Homo sapiens: one gene and its partners. The protein of the gene in region 1 purifies or fractionates together with the protein of each later gene. This does not show direct contact. Each region holds a gene or a part of one and is shown in the gene's direction. Other genes may lie near its edges. The genes, in order: MYO1B, POC5, RBM25 and MBNL1.

What was found.
Region 2: the proteins of MYO1B (region 1) and POC5 purify together in Homo sapiens (co-immunoprecipitation; one large-scale study listed by IntAct). This does not show direct contact.
Region 3: the proteins of MYO1B (region 1) and RBM25 purify together in Homo sapiens (affinity purification with mass spectrometry; one large-scale study listed by BioGRID and IntAct). This does not show direct contact.
Region 4: the proteins of MYO1B (region 1) and MBNL1 purify together in Homo sapiens (affinity purification with mass spectrometry; one large-scale study listed by BioGRID and IntAct). This does not show direct contact.

What each region holds. Positions count from the first base shown.
Region 1 is NC_000002.12:191,411,454-191,417,135, forward strand, and holds part of MYO1B (unconventional myosin-Ib), read left to right. Parts: intron 1-2,594; coding exon 2,595-2,727; intron 2,728-3,063; coding exon 3,064-3,216; intron 3,217-4,661; coding exon 4,662-4,789; intron 4,790-5,682. UniProt on the Homo sapiens protein: Motor protein that may participate in process critical to neuronal development and function such as cell migration, neurite outgrowth and vesicular transport.
Region 2 is NC_000005.10:75,709,569-75,715,250, reverse strand, and holds part of POC5 (centrosomal protein POC5), read left to right. Parts: intron 1-2,299; 5' UTR 2,300-2,313; coding exon 2,314-2,397; intron 2,398-2,590; exon of another isoform or gene 2,591-2,644; intron 2,645-2,818; exon of another isoform or gene 2,819-2,866; coding exon of another isoform or gene 2,867-2,875; intron 2,876-5,682. UniProt on the Homo sapiens protein: Essential for the assembly of the distal half of centrioles, required for centriole elongation. Acts as a negative regulator of centriole elongation.
Region 3 is NC_000014.9:73,095,177-73,100,858, forward strand, and holds part of RBM25 (RNA-binding protein 25), read left to right. Parts: intron 1-1,738; coding exon 1,739-1,924; intron 1,925-4,203; coding exon 4,204-4,257; intron 4,258-4,490; coding exon 4,491-4,574; intron 4,575-5,682. UniProt on the Homo sapiens protein: RNA-binding protein that acts as a regulator of alternative pre-mRNA splicing. Involved in apoptotic cell death through the regulation of the apoptotic factor BCL2L1 isoform expression.
Region 4 is NC_000003.12:152,461,423-152,466,280, forward strand, and holds the end of MBNL1 (muscleblind-like protein 1), read left to right. Parts: intron 1-962; 3' UTR 963-4,358; downstream 4,359-4,858. UniProt on the Homo sapiens protein: Mediates pre-mRNA alternative splicing regulation. Acts either as activator or repressor of splicing on specific pre-mRNA targets. Inhibits cardiac troponin-T (TNNT2) pre-mRNA exon inclusion but induces insulin receptor (IR) pre-mRNA exon inclusion in muscle.

The sequences.
Region 1 (5,682 bases):
GCTGTTAAGATACGTTTGCATTGTAAATTCCTGTTCCTTTTCCGTAGTTTTCAAAGACTAGCCAAATTTCTGTTGGCAATATACTTTAATCACCATTCCAGTCTTCCTGCCATAGCAAGCAAGGTCAGAAACTTATTTGTAAGGTAAATGAAAGAGCGAGCCAGGACAGTACTTTTTGAGTGTTGCTTGAGCACTGGTCTGTGGTGCCCTTTGGTCTGCTAACTCAACGGATATGACTTCTGTGGCCTGTACAGCACGTTCAGTTCCTTTATTTTAGACACCGTGGACTCAGAAAAAGAAGGAACACCAATCCCAAGTTCAGCAAGTGAAGTCCTTGGTAAAGACTGTTTATCCCAATAGTCTTACATCTCCTGCATTCATCACTTCCTCCCAGCAATCTAATCCCATTTTCATCTGGTGTTTATAAAAAAGTAGATTGTACAATTTCAAGCCAAATCTGTAACAACTTTAAGCTTCTTCCAATGAATGGCCAAAGAAAGAATGTATTATATGCTGAGTATATTCACATTTATTACGTAAATTATGTTTATATTCTCTGTGACTTTATACACATTTAAAATATCTTCCTTTTAAAGGATTAAAGGAATATACATTGCCAGACTCACTGGGTTTAAATATTTTAAATTGTACAACTTCATTGGTTAGCTGATGTGGCTACTTGAGGTGATACATACTCCCTTAAGTCAAACACAGTGTCTAAATCCAAAGTTGTCCAAAGTGCCTGTTATATAAAGCATATTCAAACAGGAGAATTTGTCTGTATGCTTGCTTCAGCAACTAATTTTATTCAGCTTTTTTTTTATACATTTTTAAATTAGGGAATAACCTTCTTAATGAACATTTCCTGTGGATGACTCTTCAGAAACTACAGGCTGGAAAATACATCTTTGAGGAAACAATTTAAAAGCCTGTTAGCATTTTTATAATTTAAAACACAGTTGAATAGGAACCAAAAAAAGTTAACTTCAAGCCAAGTCCTTTTTGGGTAGTCTTATCAGTTTTCAGGGATAGTGGCACACTCACCCCACAGCAGTGAGAGAGGTGGAATAATTTAGCCTCCCACCACCCTGCAAAGTGGCAGCTCTTATGGGAGTTGGCCTTTTATATCCTGAGAGCTGTGAAACGCTGACCACCTACGTGGATTTTTCTTCCCTTATCCTCCACCCACAACATAAGCATTTAAATTTGTATTTGCAAATTGCCAGAACTTTGTAGCTCAAAATGAAGCTTATAGATTCCTTGAAGCAGCAGTTTTTCCTTGGTGCCTTTGATGAACCTGTCCTGAAAGAGTCCCCCGACAAGTCTTTAGGGAAATTGATATCTTAGTGATAAGTGTACAGTTAACCTTTTACAAAAATTAGTTTGTTTGGGAAAAAAAAAATTGCCCTGATTCTGAATGTTTGCTTTGGTTACTTCTGTCCATTTAGAGGCATATTCTAGGAGAAGAGGCTTGATTCTCCTTTCATATACAGATGCTGCTTAACTTATGATGCAGTTACACACAGATAATCCATCATATGGGTTATGAGTGATTTCTATCTTGATTGTTCCATGTGATGAGATTATTATCAAAGTCCTGCCCACCAAATGCCATGATCACCTCAAAAATATATTTGAAATAGGTTTAAGGTTTCATTTCCAACTTATATTTAGGACAGATGCAAGCGTAATGTATAAAATAAATTGAAGTCAATTTTTATGAAGTTGTCATATGTCATATGAAGTTGAAAATATCATAAGTTGAAAATGCATTTAATACACCTAACCTACTGAACACAATCACTTAGCCTAGCCTACCTTAAACATGCTCAGCACACTTACATTAGCCTACAGTTGGGCAAAATCATCTAACACAAAGCCTGTTTTATAATAAAGTGTTGGATATCTCATGTGGTTTATTGACCACTGTACTGAAAGTGAAAAACAGAATGGTTTATGAGCACCACTGTAAAGCTGAAAAACCCTAAGTCAAACCAAGTCAGAGACCATCTGTATTGCCTACTTAGAACCACAGTTACATGTTAATATTAAGTGTTCTATAGTTTTCTTCTAAAGTGATTGCCCTGGATCTGTTCTTTCCCAGAAGGCCTATTGATTTTCTTATTCTCTGCAAGAAATGAAATTTTTCTTTAGAGCAGGTGATGGTAATGATTTCAGCTCTTTTCACTGCCACATATTGTTTGAAGGCGTTAGTAAATCCTTTGTGAGCAGCTGTTAACTTTATATTAACAGATTAGAAGAAATTGCCTTTTCCTTCACATGAGGCCATGTACTTGAGTCTTAGCTGTTGTTCTTATGAGTGATTTCTGTCTTGATTGTTCCGTGTGATAAGATTATTATCAAAGTCCTGCCCACCAAATGCCATGATCACCCCAAAAGTGTATTTGAAATAGGTTTAAGGTTTCATTTCCAACTTATATTTAGGACAGATGTAAGTGTAATATATAAAATAAATTGAAATCAATTTTTATGAAGTTGTCAGCTACTCCTTAGAATCAACTGACCTGTTTCCTTTTTTTAGTGGTACTTTCATTTGAAACTATTTCTAATGTGCAGGAATTTTTTTCCTTTAGTGTTGGGCAACCATTCCAAGGGGCTTACCTGGAAATCAACAAGAACCCCAAGTATAAGAAACTCAAAGATGCCATTGAAGAAAAGATCATCATTGCTGAAGTCGTGAACAAAATTAACCGTGCTAATGGGAAGGTAAAAATGCTAACCTTGAAGACTGATAAGAAGTACCTATTAGTTGGGATAGTCACCCTGTTTTCTGAATGTAAAAATTTGCATTTCATGTTCTCAGTAGAGTTAACTATGAAGGCGGCTATTTCCCCTTACCTTTAAGCTTAGGTGGAATTTTGCTTGTTCTCTGACATTTTTATGAAATAAAACATATTATTTATGTTCTTTACTGCGTTCTTGGTTTACATAGGTATGTTTGTTGAAGGATATTGGAATTTTTGCAAATAATGCCTTAAACTCATGGACCATTTTTGAGTATTTGTGATCATTGGTTTTATACTATTTTTTATTTTGATTTAGAGTACATCTCGGATTTTCCTCTTAACAAACAATAATCTCCTTCTTGCTGACCAAAAGTCTGGACAAATCAAGTCAGAGGTTCCATTGGTGGATGTGACCAAGGTATCAATGAGCTCACAAAATGATGGCTTCTTCGCCGTCCACCTCAAAGAGGTAAAGGTTCAACAGAAGATTTCTGTGCTTAATCTCTCAGCCATTGATTTAAAAAATTTCCATATCTGATAATCCTATCGCAGTTTATATATCTGCCTTGCTAATTTGCAAATTTTGGATATTCACCCCTATGTAAAATCTCCGACTCAGTTTTTCAGTAATTGAATAAAGTTAATCACTTTTATTGGCCAGTTTACTTTACTTTTTGAGACTAATACATAGAAATATCAAGATGTTTTAAATTTTGTTTTCTCCTGTTTTTTCTTCTATGTATCAACTTAGTAAATGTCTTAATGTTCATCTCTAATCTGGGGGTTTACATTAAAGGATACAACTAAAATAAAATAACCGCCAGTTAATTTTAACCTAAATAATTTTTAGTGTTCTGTGCCTTTAGCTTAACCAGGACTCCTGGCTTGGATGCAGTGGTTACATGTAGGTTCTGGAGTTGGTCTCACTCACTTTATGATAATTTTGGCCAAGGCATTTAATTTGTGTGTGCCTACCTACTTTTTCTCATCTTTAAAATGGGGATAGTAAGAGTGCCTACTTCATAGCATTGTTGTAAGGATTAAGGATTAAATGAGACACTGGAGGAACAGGGCCTGTCACATAACACATAGTCACTGAATAAACAAAAGTTAACAAATATTGATCATATGTAGGGACATGTGTCTAGCTAATAATGTTACTCTCTGGCCAACCCTAAACTTAGAAAAATCCCCAAAGCTTCCCTTAGCCTGTTTACCCTACTTTGGATCTTAACTTAAAGGGGGCATATCAAATACTAGGACAGTGATTCTCAACCTCAGTGACACATGTAAACAGCTTGGGAACTTTAAAAATTCTGATGCCCAGGCCATACCCCTATGAAATCAAATTAGAATTTCTCAGAGGGGGCACAAGCATCATGTTTTTTTTTTTGTTTTGTTTTGTTTTTTTTTTGAATAAACCCAGATGATTCCCTTGCACAGCTAAGGCTGAGAGCCACTGCCCTAGGATATTTGTTGGAAGTGTTGTCATTAGGGTTTTAACCAAATCACTGAAAAGTTTTTTAATCAAGTCCTTCAGAAGAGTTGCGGGATAGGTCCATGCTCCTCAAACCTGAATGTGTAAACCCATACCTGGAGGTTGCGTTGTGGTTTCATATTCACTGGGGCTGTGGTAGGGCCTGAGATTCTGCTTTTCTAGCAAGCTCCAAGTGATGCACATGGTGCTTCTGCTGCATCCACCGACTTTAGGTAGAAGGGGATTAGGTAACCTTACTAAAGTGCTCTGAGCAAGTTGGAAGAAACACTGCTTTTGTCATTATTGTTTACCTTGGGAGAATGGATTCCAGGATCTGATGTTTTAAAGAGACTGTAAGTATGTTTTTAGCCAAGCCTGTAAATATTGACCTTCTAAGGTATCTTTAATTATGACCGACTCTTGGTTTGTCCTTGCAGGGCTCAGAAGCAGCTAGTAAAGGAGACTTTCTCTTCAGCAGTGATCACCTGATTGAAATGGCCACCAAGCTCTATCGCACAACTCTCAGCCAAACCAAACAGAAGCTCAATATTGAGATTTCCGATGAGTACGTTCATGTATTGTTTGAAAACCCTTTTTCTCTTTCAGCTTTTTTGTTTTAGTTCAGCTCTCGATCTCATTCATTAATACAACTACTTATTAAGTACCAGGTATGTGTCTAGTAGTTGTTCCACATGATAAATGGGCAGTGAATGACACTGACCAAGTCTCCAACCTCATGTACCTGACATCCTAGTGGAAGAGACCAGTATGTACAAATAAAATGATGAAATAGTTGATAAGATTTTGGCTAACAAGTGTTTATGGAGGAAAAAAAGGGTTAAGAGTCAGAGAGTAGGCCAGGCGCAGTGGCTCACGCCTGTAATCCCAGCACTTTGGGAGGCCGAGGCAGGCGAATCACGAGGTCAGGAGTTCGAGACCAGCCTGGCCAACATGGTGAAACCGTCTCTACTTAAAATACAAAAAAAATTAGCTGGGCGTGGTGGCGGGCGCATGTAATCCCAGCTACTCAAGAGGCTGAGGCAGGAGAATCTCTTGAACCCGGGAGGCGGAGATTGCAATGAGCCGAGATCGTGCCACCGCAATCCAGCCTGGGTGACAGTGTGAGACTCCGTCTCAGAAAAAAAAAAAGAGTCAGGGAGGCCTCTTTGATGTGGTGACATCTGAGACTGGTATAAATTTGAAATTTGCTTCTTCAATTTCTCATTAGGGTTCTGAATATAGAAGTTAGTTATTTGCATACAGGTTGGGGCATCCCCAGATTTATTGTATCTATCTATGTAAGTGTTTTGGAGAAATCTGAGTTACTGTGTTGATTATACTTAATTGGTTACCTTTCAATAGATTGTTTACCTGCTTATATACTTCTTTGCATGTCTAGATTGCTCAGGAAATTATATTCTTTTCTAATTAAGAATTTTCTAGTCTATTCTGTTTCAA
Region 2 (5,682 bases), on another chromosome or scaffold:
ATGAGCTCCGCCTCCCGGGTTCACGCCATTCTCCTGCCTCAGCCTCCCAAGTAGCTGGGACTACAGGCGCCCACCACCACGCCAGGCTAATTTTTTGTATTTAGTGGAGACGGGGTTTCACCGTGTTAGCTAGTATGGTCTTGATCTCCTGACCTCGTAATCCTCCCACCTCAGCCTCCCAAAGTGCTGGGATTGCAGGCATGAGCCACCGTGCCCGGCCTGGGCAGTTCTTTATAGCAGTTTGAAAAACGTACTAATACAGGACCTCAGGATAAGAACTTTTTCTCACATTCCTTTTTTATAGGTGGTCTCATCCATTCCCTTTTTTCAGCAGTTCCCATTATGCCAGTGATTCCTCAAACTGGATCTCCAACTTATACCTCCAGTGCGGCGCTCCCACAATGCTTAACTCCAGGAAACACCATTCACAGTGTAGCCATTGTGAATGGCAGTTCTTGGAGTAGCGCACTACGTAGCCAGTGTGACCACAGACTGCATACTTGCAGCTTTACCCTAGTGCCTCAGAGGCATCCTCACACCCAGCTCATCTGATATGGCACTCATTGTCCTTCCTCCCAACCTGCTCATCTTCCTACCTTCCTTGCCTTGGTGAGTGGCACTATCCATCTAGTTACCCAAACCGGAGATCTGGAAGCCACCAACAGTTCTTTTTAACCCCTTGATCTATTATTGATCATTTTCTCTTTCCATCACCATAACACAACTGTCTTGTAGTCATACCCTCCATCCCCTTCCCATTGCTACTTCCTAGACTTAGGTCATCATTTATCTTCTTAATTACTATCAAAGAGAACATTTATCTCTTAGACTACTGCAGTCAGCTCTCAATTGATCTCTCTCTCTTTTTTTTTTGAGACGGAGTCTCTGTCACCCAGGCTGGAGTGCAGTGGTGCGATCTTGGCTCACTGCAGCCTCCACCCCCAGGGTTCTAGCTATTCTCCTGCCTCAGCCTCCCAAGTAGCTGGGATTACAGGCACCTGCCACCAGGCTCGGCTAATTGTTTTGTATTTTTAATAGAGACAGGGTTTCGCCATGTTGGCCAGGCTGGTCTCAAACTCCTGACCTCAGGTGATCCACCTACCTCAGCCTCCCAAAGTGCTAGGATTACAGGCATGATTCACTGCACCCAGCCTGATCTCTCTTAATATCCAAATTCATCCTCAACGCTGCTGGAATGATCTTTCTGATCATGTAACTTTTAAAAAATATTTCAATAACTTGTCTAGAATAAACACCCAGATTTTTAATATGACAAGTTTTGACCTTCCATGATCTGGCTGCTCCTTACTTTTTGTTTCATCCTTAGCCAATCCTTTGCACCCATTGCTTTGTCCTTACCAAACTGCTTGCTGTTCGTGGCATACATGTCCATGGCTCTGTCTTTGCTTATATTGCTCTACTGCCTAGAATATCTACACCTGTGTTTATACCTTTTATCCATCTTTCAGGATGAGACCTACTCATCTTTCAGATCTCAACACCTGGGTCATCTTCTCTAAAAACTTTCTGTGCCTCCTTTCCTGCTTATTTACAGTCATGCAATCTTACCCCATGAAAAATAGCTACTCCTATCTCTCTACTTTGTATCTGTTATTTTAGGGCCTATCAGCAGTTTATTCATCAGTCGGTCACTTATATAATATACATGCCTGGCCCTCTCTACAGATTGTAAACTCCTTAAGAATGAGGACTTCATTTTACATTCCTCACCAATGTCTTACATATTACTGGTATTCAGATAGTTCGAATAGTCACTATTTGTTCTTTGAATAATTCGGTTACTTGTTACTAAAAGTACTTTTAATGATTTTTTGATTAGGACTTTCAACAAATTCTCTATGCATATATTTGATTCTGTTGTTCTGTATAAGCTCACTTTTCTTAAAATAATATTTCCAAAGGTAAGTTTCCCAAGAAGGGAATTTGCACAAATTGTTTGTTCTCTCTTGGTTCTGTGTCTTAGAGGAAAGTACACAGCACCCAGGTTGTCACACATTGCTCAAGAACAGTGATCACAATCTATTATGCTCAACAGGCCCCGCTGGGGATTTTTCTGAAGACCTGACTACGTTATAAACTCACTAATATTGGGACTGGGTCTTCAACTGTTTTTTGCCCAGTGATTTTTTGCCTGTAGGTACTCAATATGTTGAATGAATGATTTTAGCATATCACAGGAAGATTGCAGATTTGGATACTGTTGCACTTATATATATCTGGAAAGGATTTTATCTTAAATATCAAGGAAAAAAGCTAAAGTTAGCTTCTACTGTTTTAGAGCATTTGTGCAGAATGTCATCAGATGAGGAGAAATACTCACTTCCAGTTGTGCAAAATGACTCCAGTCGAGGCAGTTCTGTCTCTTCGAATCTTCAGGTAGGAAAAAATTTCTAAATTTACCATGACTTTTTTTATTTTAAACAAATGAATGTAAGGGAAAACTAGGATTTTTTAATAATTTTTTCATCCATTTACAAGGGAGTTTTTCAATTTATAATAATATCAAACTTCAGGAATTACTGTACACATTTTAGGAGTGACTTTACATTGTTTTAACTTTTCAGAAAATATTGATGAACTCTTCATACACTCTGTACAAAGGCTTCAACCAACACAGTAAGAGGTGAAACAAATGTTCAAGAAACATTTTTTTGTTTAAATTTTTTTCATTTTAGCTACCTCTCATGAATGCTACTTTCACTTTTAATGCAAATTAATACAATATCAAACCATCCAAAGTTCTAGAGCTCAAGATTCCCTTGTGTTCTACTTGCTGAGGTTTGGTCTCTGTTGTCACAACATTCAGTACAATCTGCTGCCCAGGACCTGGACATTGACAGATAAAATGAAGTGGGTCAGTTAACTACAGAGGGTGTGGTATTTACATGAAATGTTTTAAATTTCTCTTATTTCTAAATATTTCATCATCAAAAATATGGATTTAGATTTCTGGAGTAGATTTTAAATATGAGAATAATGACATGGTATATCTTAAATTTTACAGTTGTATTACTCAAGGGGAAAGGCTGTTTATGCCTAAGCATATGAAATTGTTATTGATTCTGTACGATATGAGAAAAGCTTTAGGAAAATATTTTATGAAACAAATTTGTTCCTTTAATCGAAATTATGGATTTCAAAATGGGGAAGGTATTGGGAAAATATCTGAATATTTACAGGATAAAACTAGTCTGGAGTTGTGGCAGAGCTTTTGCACCCTAGCCTTCCCTTTTGATGGTACCTGTCCCATGTAGTCCTCTCTTCAGGTGACAGTACTTCCTCCACCCTTCATCGCTGTCTGATTGAAACTTGAAGATAGAACTGATTAACTCATTTATACTAAAATGTAAACACCTTGTGAGCTCTCAAATTTCATTTCGTGAAGAGATAAAGCTTTAAATCAAAAGAATAACTCTCTAGAGTGGAATTTTAGAGAGACGGAAGAAGAACCTGCCAGAAATTATTTTGTGTTATTGTTTACCCACCTATAATGTAAGCTCAACTGAGAGTCTATTACTGTCAACTAATGTTCCTACTGGTTCTTGGACTGAAGTTGAAAGCCTCTCCATATTCCCTGTACATACAGTGTTATTACTTTGGGTTTCACTACTGGAAGCACTTCAAAATATAAATACAAAAAAAAATCTTAAAAATAACATAAAATACACATTTTTACATATGTAGTAAATATGTAAATCCAAACATTTAATACAAAAGCCCCTCATAAATAAATATTCCTCTTAAGGAACTTTTTTGTTACTCTCTTTTTATGCGAATGCTTCATAAGCCAGAAGGTGGTAAATGCTGAGGGATGGGCAGCATCCATAGTGCTTATACACTGAAAATTTCCTCTAACCACAGCTCCTATCAGCCAAGTTGCTCTGACTCTAATGGTTGAGGCATGGGTGGAGCTATATTTCAGGGTCATATCAATTCAGCTCTTGGGGGTTGGGGAGGGGGGCAAAATTACAAGTTTTGAATGTTAACAGAGGTTATGTTTGGCAATTAAGAAAGCCAATATTGTTTATTTTGATTCTTAATTTTAAATTTTATTTTTAAATAACTTATTTGGCTTGTGTCTACATATATGAAACTCTAAAATAGTCATTTAAATAACTGATTTTTTCTAAATGTTTTCTTGAAATAAGTTGGAATATATGGTCATGGAATACTATTGACATATACTTATTTATTTCCCCTTTAAGCCATAGCAATTGTGGTAAAATATATGAAATATATGAATATGTATGAAGTATATGATTTGAAATATGTGTTTGGATCTTTTTTTTCCTTCTCTTATCCAGAGCAGAAGTCAGACTAGGGAAGCCACAAGTGAAAGCCACTGACTTCCACTTCTCCCTCCGTTCCTACATGCTAGAGGTGGTGATAGGCTAACTCTGAGTAGAGCTGACTTGGCTAAATCTAGTTGCAACTGACACCACAGCAGGAACACTATAAAAAGTTTATGAACCTCACAATATAAGATCACCATCATATTAATCTGCTCAGGCTACCATAACAAAGTACCATAAATTCATAGGCTTAAACAACAGACATTTATCTTCTCACAGTTCTGGAGGCTAGAAGTCCCAGATCACAGCCCAAAAGGGTCAGTTTCTGGTGAGGGCTCTCTTTGTGGATTGCAGACAGGTGCCTTCTTGCTGTATCTTTGCATGGCCTTTCCTCAGTACAGTATGTGCAGGTGGGAGGAGAGCATGCACAAGGTTCCTGGTGTCTCTTCTGATGAGTACATTAATGCTCTCAGGGCCCCAACCAATGACCTTATTTAACCTTAATTACTTTCTTGAAGGCCTCATCTCCAAATACAGCCACACTGGGTGTTAGGGCTTCAGCATATGAATTTTGAGGGGACACAAACATTCAGACTCCGTAACTCCATAACAGCCACACTTTTATATATTCTTAGCCAAAATCAAAAGTATATTTTGGGTGTTTGGGAAGTATAATAGTGCTTTAACAGAAACCAAGTAAGGGTGGTTTAAGTGGGTTCCTTACAGTTTCATTCTGTCTCTCATAAATTCTGAGCTGATACGTAGTCCTGAGATCATCTGAGGACCCAATCCCTTCTCTCTTTTTGCTGTACCATGAGCTGTTGACCGTGTTTGCATTGTCAGGTACTGGTGCACTGACAGTGTACTACCACTAGCCCATGGGAAGAGGGGACCAGCAGGAAGCAGCTTCGTTTTTAAGGACTTCACCTAAAGTTGTACACATCATTTCCAGTTGAATCCCATAGACCAGGTCTCTTGGCCACACCTAGCTGCAGAGGAGGCTGGGAAATGTAGCTGGGTGGCCATTTGCCCAAATCAAACCCTGGGGCTTTATTAAGTTAAAGAAATTAAAAAGAAATGGATGCTGCTGGATTAGTTACAGTCTCTATGCACTTGAAATTTTATGTATTAGTTTATTAGGACCAACACACACATTCAGGTTTATAGGAACTAGTAAATATCTTGTGCATGGCCCCAATTTATTAAGCTCTTTGGGAATTTCTTTTTGATAATTAGAAAACCAATATGCTTTGGGAAGTGTATTTTTTTTAACCTAAGGATATTTAAATCTATTTAAATAATCATAGTTACTTTTGTCAATGTAAAAATTAAATGTTGGTGCTCGCTTCAGCAGCACATATACTAAAAC
Region 3 (5,682 bases), on another chromosome or scaffold:
GTAATGCCTTATATTTAAGTTATCTGTGTCATAACCCATCTGTTACTCTGTAGTGATACAGCTTGAGGAGAAGAGAGCGTTTTTCAATTTGGATTTTATTCCGTCTAAGTGCAGCATCTTTCTCACAGTATGCTCTTAAGAATTTGTTGATGGGTGTGGTCGTCACGCCTGTAATCCCAGCACTTTGGGAGGCTGAGGCGGGCGGATCATGAGGTCAGGAGATCGAGACCATCCTGGCTAACACGGTGAAACCCCCATCTCTACTAAAAATACAAAAAAATTAGTCGGGTGTGGTGGCGGGAGCCTGTGGTCCCAGCTACTCAGGAGGCTAAGGCAGGAGAATGGTGTGAAACTGGGAGGCCAGAGCTTGCAGTGAGCTGAGATCACGCCACTGCATTCCAGCCTGGGCAACAGAGCAAGACTCCGCCTCAAAAAAAAAAAAAGAATTTGTTGAGCAAATTAATTTAAGAAATAAAATGTTTGTTGAATACGTATCCATTGGAGACAGCTTTCAGAATGCTTGTGGTCAACTTATAAAGTTACTGCTAAGTTACATTGTTAAGGAGGCACAAGGCATGAAACTCACCTTGAATAGAGTTGCAGGAATTATGACCAAGAGCCAGGCATGTATGCACATGAGCATGGTTCTTGTATGTATCTGAAAATGTGCACGGTATATGTTTACCAAGTAAGTCGTTAAAAACTTTGGGGCATGCACAACTATTGTAGCACAACTATTGTAGCACATTAGAAGCCAACAATTTTCCCCACATAGAGGGAATAATCTAGACTTCTTAGAAAATAATAATTATTATTATTGAGATGGAGTTTCGCTCTTTTGCCCAGGCTGGAGTGCAGTGGCGTAATCTCTGCTCACTGCAACCACTGCCTTCCGGTTTTAAGCGATTCTCCTGCCTCAGCCTCCCGAGGAGCTGGAATTATAGGCATGCACCACCGCACTCGGCTAATTTTTGTATTTTTAGTAGAGTGGGGTTTCACCATGTTGGCCAGGCTGGTCTTGAACTCCTGACCTCATGATCCGCCCCCGCCTCGGCCTCCCATAGTGCTGGGATTACAGGAGTGAGCCACTGCGCCTGGCCAGAAAATTATTGATAAAGACCTACAAATACTTACTTTGATTCCTTGTTAGGGTTGTAAGTGTATGGTTTCTATAAGTGGTATGTATTCCTGCATTATAAGCACTCGTAGAAAGCAAATAGGAAATAAGCCATCATTACAGCCCCTAAACTCCCGATTCTTGCAGTTTGGTATATTTAGCAATCTGATGTTTTTGTTTGTTTGTTTAATCTACATACAATTTTGCTTTTTCTGAGTGGTAGCTATCACAATTAACTTAAAATTGTATTTTGCCTTTACTACGTAACTGAATTTTCAACTGTTTAAAAGAGTCGTTACTATTTGTGTACCTATTGAGCAAAACAGTCTGAAAACTTGTGAATGGTTTGCAGATGTGTCGTATAGTGTGCTAGTCCTGAAATTTAGGGACCAGAATTTTTTAGCTATTAAGAAAAAGAAAATGAAAATGAAGTAGTATCTCAGGAATAGTTAAATAAAAAAATGAAGCTTTTCTGATGTTAAGAACAAAACCAATTCTGTGTTTAATAGGACTACAGAGATGTTTTTGAGAAAACATGTATGTTTATTAACTCTTGTTGTAGAGTGATTTTGATTTTCTTGCTTGATTTTTCTTTCCCCTGAATTTGCTGTTTTGTTTAAGAATGCAAGGCCAGAAACTGTCACTAATGACGATGAAGAAGCCTTGGATGAAGAAACAAAGAGGAGAGATCAGATGATTAAAGGGGCTATTGAAGTTTTAATTCGTGAATACTCCAGTGAGCTAAATGCCCCCTCACAGGAATCTGATTCTCACCCCAGGAAGAAGAAGAAGGAAAAGAAGGAGGACGTATGTGTTCTGACAACAACATATCATTTCTACCGTTTGTTTTTTATGATATCACTCTTATACTTTGATTACATGTCAGTTTTCTTTTTTCTTTTCTTTTTTTTTTTTTTTTTTTTTTGAGATGGAGGCTCACTTTGTCTCCCAGGCTGGAATGCAGTGGTGCAATCTCAGTTCACTGTAACCTCCGCCTCCGGGGTTCGAGCGATTCTACTGCCTCAGCCTCCTGAGTAGCTGGGACTACAGGCATCCGCCACCATGCCCGGCTAATTTTTTGGTTTTTAGTAGAGACGGGGTTTCACCGTGTTAGCCAGGATGGTCTCAATCTCGTGACCTCGTGGTCGACCCGCCTCGGCCTCCCACAGTGCTGGGATTACAGGCGTGAGCCACCGTGCCCGGCCACATTTTAAACTTTTTTACAGAGACAAGGTCTCACTATGTTTTCTAGGCTGGTCTCCAACTCCTGGGTTCAGGTTATCCTCCTGCCTCCGCTTCCTAAAGTGCCAGGATTACAGTCATGAGCCACTGCGCCCGGCCCCTATTTTACTTTGTTTGCCTATGGTTGTTCTGTCTCTGTTCTAAGCAAGAAACCAGATCTGATTCACTGAAGATTTCCACCCACTCTTAATTTTTAGCTGCCTTTCCTTAAGAAACTATGTCACATTCCCCTCCCTGAACAATAATGGTATTGAATAATCAAACTGGAGGATTCTGAAAGAGCAGTACAACTTGAAACATTCCTCCTCAGTGAATTGATTGCTACCTCTTTGTGGCCCTAAGCTAATTGTCCAGGTTGAAAGAAAAGGTTTAGTTTTCTCATACTTATTTCCTTTGGATAAACTTAGATAAATTATAGGAAGTGTTCTTTTAAAAATACTGGAAGAAGCCAGAAGTGGTGGCTGACACATGTAGTCCCAGCAACTTGGGAGGCTGAGGGGAGAATTACTTGAGCCCATGAACTTGAGTCTAGCCTGGGCCACAGAGCGAGACCCTTCTATAAAGTAAGAAAAAAAATCCCACAAATATTGGAAGTGTTTTATTTATGTTTTTGAGACAGTATCTTGCTCTGTCACACAGACTGGAGGATGGTGGCGCAATTACGGCTCACTGCAGCCTTGAATACCCATCCTAAAGTGATCCTCATGTGTTAGCCTCCTGAGAAGCTGAGACTATAGGCATGTGCTACCATACCCAGCTAATTTTTGTATTTTTTGTAGAGACAGGGTTTCACCATGTTGCCCAAGCTGGTGTTGAACTCCTGAGCTCAAATGATCTGCCTGCCTCAGCCTTCCAAAGTGCTGGGACTACAAGTGTGAATCACTCATAGCTGGCTCAACGTGTTTTATATGCATGCATTATGTAATAAAAAAGTACTACGTGGTATATATATTATGATTAGTTATGAATGGATGGTTACATTTTATATTATTTTAAATTTCAGTGCCTTTTTAGGCCATATTCAGTTTTCTTTGTGGCCAGATACATACATTTTTATTATTTGGTATGTGTTTCCTCGTTTGGTCATAGAACTTTTCTTTTTTGTTCCCGCCCCTACCCCCACCCAAGACGGAGTCTCACTCACTTGCCCAGGCTGGAGTGCAGCAGCTGCGATCTCAGCTCACTGCAAGCTCTGCCTCCCGGGTTCAAGCGATTCTCCTGCCTCAGCCTCCTGAGTAGCTGGGACTACACGTGCCTGCTGCCACGCCCAGCTACTTTTTTGTATTTTTAATAGAGATGGGTTTCACTGTGTTAGCCAGGATGGTCTCGATCTGCTGACCTCGTGATCCGCGTGAGCCACCGTGCCCGACCCATAACTTTTCTAAGGAGGTGTATTCTGTTAGGAATGGTAATTGGTAGGGTCAGTAAGGTACAGGGTAATTGAGGCCTGTAGAATTCATTCTTCCTCTTTCTTCATTAGTGGGAAAGGAGAAAAATAACATATTTGTTTGATGTGGATTGGGAGGAGATAATAAATTCTTCCTCTGTGGCAGGAGTTATGGGTAAATATTGTTGGTATGATTAGAAAGCCCTGCTACTATGAGAGCACCTTCTATATTTCCATTTCTTGGGGGTGTTGGAGTATCCAGAGAGGAGGGTAGTGTGTGATCAGTTATTGTAAAAAGAGTGAAATCACTTCTATTCCCAAGTAATTTGAAATCAAGAAAGCATCACAGAAGTGTACTGTATTGTTCACGTCATAAATGTATAGGGCATTGCTTTGCAGATTAGTATGAGCTCTGTTTTTCTTTTTTAAAAAAGATTCTTGGTGGATTTTTTCACAGATTTTCCGCAGATTTCCAGTGGCCCCACTGATCCCTTATCCACTCATCACTAAGGTTAGTTTAAATTGTAGGCTTTGACAATACCTGTGTTTACTGCTGATTGTTGATTTGTCATTCTTGTCTATCTGATTTTTCACTATTTAACTTTAGATTGTTAGATTTGTTATTGTGGATATTCTGTTTACTTATTTACTCTTTGAGACCTATACAGAATATCTAACCTTTAACTGTTTATATTGAAGTAGGGTGTTCTTTATTCATTCCCTCCTGTGCCCGTTTTCTTTTAGGAGGATATAAATGCTATAGAAATGGAAGAAGACAAAAGAGACCTGATATCTCGAGAGATCAGCAAATTCAGAGACACACATAAGGTAGTATTCTTGTCTTTTCACTTGATACCAATCTAGACTTTTTACAGAATCCAAAGCAAAGAGACAAAAAAAATCAACCTTAAATTAGAATATAATTTTAAATGTTTTTTATAGGTTTAATTGATATTTAGATAGAAAAAAGAAACAGAAGACCAATACCATATTAAAGTGGTCCTTGACATGTTGTGCTTAGTTTTTTCAGTTACTGACTATTCTGCAGTCATCTCACTTTAATATGAATAGAAGCTAATTTTATTTTTAGATTTCAACATAAACATCAAGGTCAGACTTAAATTAGATTCAGGGGGCAGCAGGATAACATACACTGTAGTGTATTTCTGGGGGCAGTTATTTAACTTGATCTTAGGAATACCTTTTCTTTAGAGCTGAGATTAAAATTTACATTTTATATTTGTATAGATTTAAGTTGAGTGGGGGAGATTTTAAACAGTAGGTCAGTGGTTACCAGACTTACCAAATTTTAGATGCATGGAAGAACTGTAAATTCCCATAAAGCTAATCTATTCATTGACCCCCACCATTATGATAGAGATCATATGGTGACTAATGCAAGATGAAACTCTCAGCTTGGAAAGTAACAAGGAATAGGATGTAAGTATGAGCTTCTGTTTTTTATTATATTTATGGATGCCCCCTCAGAAAAATATGCAAAGGGGTAACTGGCTTGGAAATGGGTATTTATGCATAGTAAATCCCACTCACGAGTTTTGCCTATTTGAAGCTTCTCTCAATGACAGTGCATCTGTGAATGTTCGCTGGTGTTGAAAATGATGCTTTTGAACGGTGCAATGCAAACACTGCATGAAATGTATTTTGATGGTCGAGATAATAAGGTGTTGCTGGTTCTTACTGATAGACTGAGAGATCTTTAACTCAGTGAAATGTTAAATGTTCATTTTCTCTTTTATTCTTACTTTTTCCCATTGCTTTCAAAATCTGCAGTTCACAAATAATGCCAATGAATCAGTGCTGCTGAACACTTACTATCCAGATGCCCAGCCCTTGCTCACAAACACAATGCTTTTTCAAGAATTAAATGTGTCTAAGAGCACAAACATAATTCTCCCAAAATTAATTTTGAGAGTTG
Region 4 (4,858 bases), on another chromosome or scaffold:
CATGCCAGAAAAATCTGTTTCAAGCTCTTATAGTCAATTAGGTGTGTTTGGTATGTATATATTTAACTAAATTCTGTTTCTTAGCAATAATCCAGGTTGAAAAAAATTTCTAAAAATAATTAGCAAACCAGTAGTTTTGTCTGTATTGAAGCTAAGCTTTTAATGTTCTGTTCATTTAACAAATGATTGCTCATCTTCATGAGGAGTTGCAACATTTAAACTGGTTTTTGAGTCACTAGATTATGATTTCTTTCATTTTCAAGGTTGTATTGTGAAGCATACTTTTAATATATGTAAATATTCGCTGCTGAGAACAAATTTCATGTAAAAACTGGAACTGTTAATCCACAAGTACATTGTAATGTCTATTACAGCTTAATTCATGAGTAATAATTCTGTAATTCAAAAAGAATGATTTTTATTTTCTTAGTTTTAGGTGAAAAAAGTTCAACAAACTGAATTACCCAAAGCCATCACTTAAAGTATCATTCTTTTTTTTTCAAACATGCATTATGCTAATCAAGCACCCAAAAAGAATAAATCTTGTTTAATAGAACATATTACATGAATTTTAATTTTGTAGACCAGACCTTTACTCTTGAAACCTTATTAAACTTCAGAAAAGAAGTTTAAATTTTGCCCTACAACAATTGTGCTAAAAAAGAGCTCTGTATATTAGGCCCCCTGATTCTGCAAATGTATTTTATACTTTTAGTTTAGGATTGGTAAATTTTGGAGCACATTCTACAGTTTTATTAAATTGTACGTGTTATTTCATTCGTGTAGAGATGATAGACAAATTTTGATCTGTCTACTCTTGTAAAATGGTTTTTGTTTTTATATGAAGATATAATGTAAATATACTGGTTAATCAAAAAGAAAATTTTCATATTAAATGTATATTAGAAACTGCTTTTAGATATTACCTGTTCTAACAAAGCTTATCTCTTTTTCCCTTGTAGATCATGCTAAAGAGGAAAGGACAGTGTGCTTGGTTAGAGTAAAGGACGAGGTCATTAGCCATATTGTATATATCGTCAAGCAACACACACAAAAGTTCCTCAGCCACAAGACATCCACATATTGCATGTTAACCAGAAGAAAAGACAACATTTTCCGGAAATCCACTGCACACTGTTGCCTATACACTTTGTACATTTAATTGATATTTGTGCTGAGGTGATATTCCTGTCTAAAAGAACAACATTGTCTTTCTTTTCTAGCACAGAGTTATGCATTCAAAGATGCATACCTAGTTAGTTTCCTATATATTCATGCCATCTTGAAAAGACAGACTATGGTGTAACCATGATTCTATTATGTATTGGTACGTCTGTAGACCAAGATATAATTTTTTAAAAATAAGTTTATTTCTTTCAAGGTTTACAAATAACAAAGGTGCACCTTGTATTTAAAATTGCCATTATAGATGAGAGCGTGCATGCACAGTCATTTTTGTTTAAGAGTAATATTTTTAATGTAATAGATTGTAAGACGTGGTGAGGGAGGGATCTGACAGAGATGAATGTGCCAAGCAAAACCACAACTGTGTATATTTTAAAGCACATCATGGCTTTAAGTACCATGTTGTTAAGGATTCTCATGAAGTGCCATAGACTGTACATCAAATTAGAGTATTATTTCTTCAGTGTTATTGTTTTCAGAGCCACATTTTGTTGCATATTTGCTAGTACTAATCAGTCAAAGGGCACCATTCTTTTTTTTTTTTTTTGAAACCAAAGCTGTCTCAGAAATGGCCAATTTAACTTTACAGTAACAATAGACAGCACAACACAAACTCTCTCAATACAGATAAACTCACACATACTGGAGATATATATATAATAGATATATATAAAATTATTTTAATGCATTGTAGTGTAATATTTATGCATACTATACTGTATAACATGTTATTCAAAAGGGATTGCCATTTCTGAGACACAGTAACAAAAAAATGAGGAAATTATTTTGCTTCTATTTATAGCCTCTGTCAAAAGTCAAAAGACTATAAATGCTTTGCAAAAATGGTTTCACGTTTGCTTAAATGCTTCATCACAGTCACATTCAAAATAGTGACTCTAAACAAAGAAGAAAGCAGCACTGTCATCAGATGCATGATAAACCAAAATATGAAAATGGGAAATGTTTAATTAACCTAGTAATTGGGTGGGTTAAGTACATGGGTGAATTTTATATGTGATTTTTGTTTTGTTTTGTTTTGTTCAGATTAACTGCTTATAGCCTTAGAAAGCCTTTTACAAAATTAAAAAAAAAATAGATGTGCATTCAGTTTTTAAGAATGGAATCATCCAAAGGAATTCCTTTTTTTGAGGTTTGGATGTTGCAGCTAGTAAAGGATATTTTTGCTCTGTTCAGCAGTTCTAAAAATTGCTGAAGTAGGGGCCAGGTCACTGGTAGTTATAGTATGGAATGGGAGAAGTGAAAGTTCAGTTATAGAACTTTCCATACTTCCAAGTTTACTGCAAGTTTTTATGCTTGAGAGAGATGCTTTCTAATATAAGACTGATGTGTTGATTTTACTGATTGTACTGTACATCTATTAAAGCCTTAGATTATTACATTACGGGTTGGAACCCATACCAATGTAATTTCAATCGTGTTAAGAAAGTAATGGTGACTTCACATGTTATTGTAGTTAGTTACATTATAGAATATTACTTATTTTTCTTGTTAAAATGTAGTTTTTCATTTCCTACATTTATTAGATTTTCATTTTCTATTAACAATTGAATACCATTTCAGTTTATAGACTTGTTTTATTAGATTTTACCAATGAATTTTTCAAAATACAAAAAAAAGTAGTTTTTCCTTCATAACATACTCAGTTTTGAATTACATGTAGTGTCACATGAATATTCGTATTGTTAACTAAATGATTTATATTTTACTGATTTAATATTACAGTGTAAGAATGTCAGTCATTGTTAGTTCTTGTCTAGTTTTCATTAAAAGAACAAAGATCTTTTATATGGATATCTTATAAATATATAATCATTGCTAAGTAAGAAGTTAAGTTGTTGCTATCGCAACAATCCTGGCAGACAATTGAGTAATATTTTGATGATTTATTTTGTTTGTAATTAGTTATTATAAGAAGATCTAGATCCTAGATATTAGAATAAAATTTATTTTCTACTGTATCCATTTCAAATGTTAAAATATTGTTTAATATTTTTGAAATCCCTGAGTATCAGGCCTTGTTATAAATAAGCTGCATAATCAATAAATAGAACAAGGGACTTTTTGTTGATAATCCAAATACTCAAAGTTTACGTAATGAAAATTATAGCGTGTGTGCAAACTCTTGAGGGTTGATTATGCTGCAATTTAGCATGTTGGAACGTCTAGGGAGAAGGTTGACTTTTTGCACTTCTGTATATAGTCAAAAGAGAGAAACCTGTATAATAGTAAGATCTTATTTTGAATAAAAACGTCTATAATTACAAGGAGTTTTGTTAAGGCTAATACAATGACAGACTGAGCAAAATTGCTTGCAAAAGTGGCACAGAGTTAGCACTCCATACCCCTTCAAACATGTTGCTTTGCTTTCTTGTGGACAGCTTGTAGTTTGCCAGGATTTTTTCAGCTGGAAAGATACGCCATCCTTTCAAACCCTCATGACTGACAAAAACTCCATGGGGCCAAATCTGCCTGAAGATCATTACCAAAAATAGCAGGTACTTCTACCATTAAGGTGAAATCATGGATCAGATATTCCTTACATTTTTCAAAACTACTGCATGTTTAAAACTTCAACAAAAAAAGAGAGAAAGAACTATACTAAGAACATATATTATTCAGATCAGTTTCTGCCAATTTCAGTGGTTTATTGTTCACAAAAAAATCTTCAAAACAAGTATTGACTTTCACAAAATTTAAATCATAAACAGGCAAACCAAACAGCACACTGTAGCTATAGTTGTTATGTGATTGTTTTTTAATTGCTGTAGGATCCTGTTCTTTCAGCAGGTGAAAAATAAAACGCAGTTCAAATTTCATGGTTTTAATTTTCAACTCAGAAGCACTCAAAAATGCAAAATGTGATAATGGGCACTTGTTTAAAAGAATTAGTGTATCCAGCCTTCACTCCAGCTGGTTAAAAATGTTGCACTTATCAGCAACCCTACCACTTTCATCTGCTGAAAGGACAAATGTGCTTGGTTTTACTATTATGTAATCACAACTTACTTTCTGCTTGTAGTTGCTTAAAATTATGTATTTTGTCTTGGGCTGCAATTTGTTTTATGCTTATTTTATTATTACTGCAGTAGTTGACTTTGCTGTATGGAAAAATAAAGTGAAATTGCCCTAATAAAACTTCTCTTTCTTAAGTATATTCGTGTATCTGAGATTGAATACTAAATTATTTTTGCGTGTTTCATGTATTCATGCATATGTATCTATCTTTACAAACATATTGATGTATAAATTTGTTACCTGGTTTTAACTGATTGCAACTGCGAGGAAGGCATTTGTTGTCTTTCTCACTAATTATCCTTTGACACTGAGAGGGAGAATCTAAATCAGCATATATTGCCCTCCTGTGCCCAATGTTTTCTGAAATTCTTGCCTTCCCCTGTCTGACACTTTAAGCGCTGATTGAAATAGTTTTAAGTGTCAGGGCAAAAAACGGTAAGAAAAAAATTATTATACATTATAGATCACTATCTATCTTTTATTAAAGAAATCTTATTTGCCTGACTGCTGCGTCAGCTGATTAGGACTGGAAATCAGGCAATCCAAGAGAGGTGATGGCACTGTATTCAGAGGGATGAAAGAAATTATGCATATGATCTATGAGGCAGGCCATGATATTACTCCTGAGGGGTGTGTG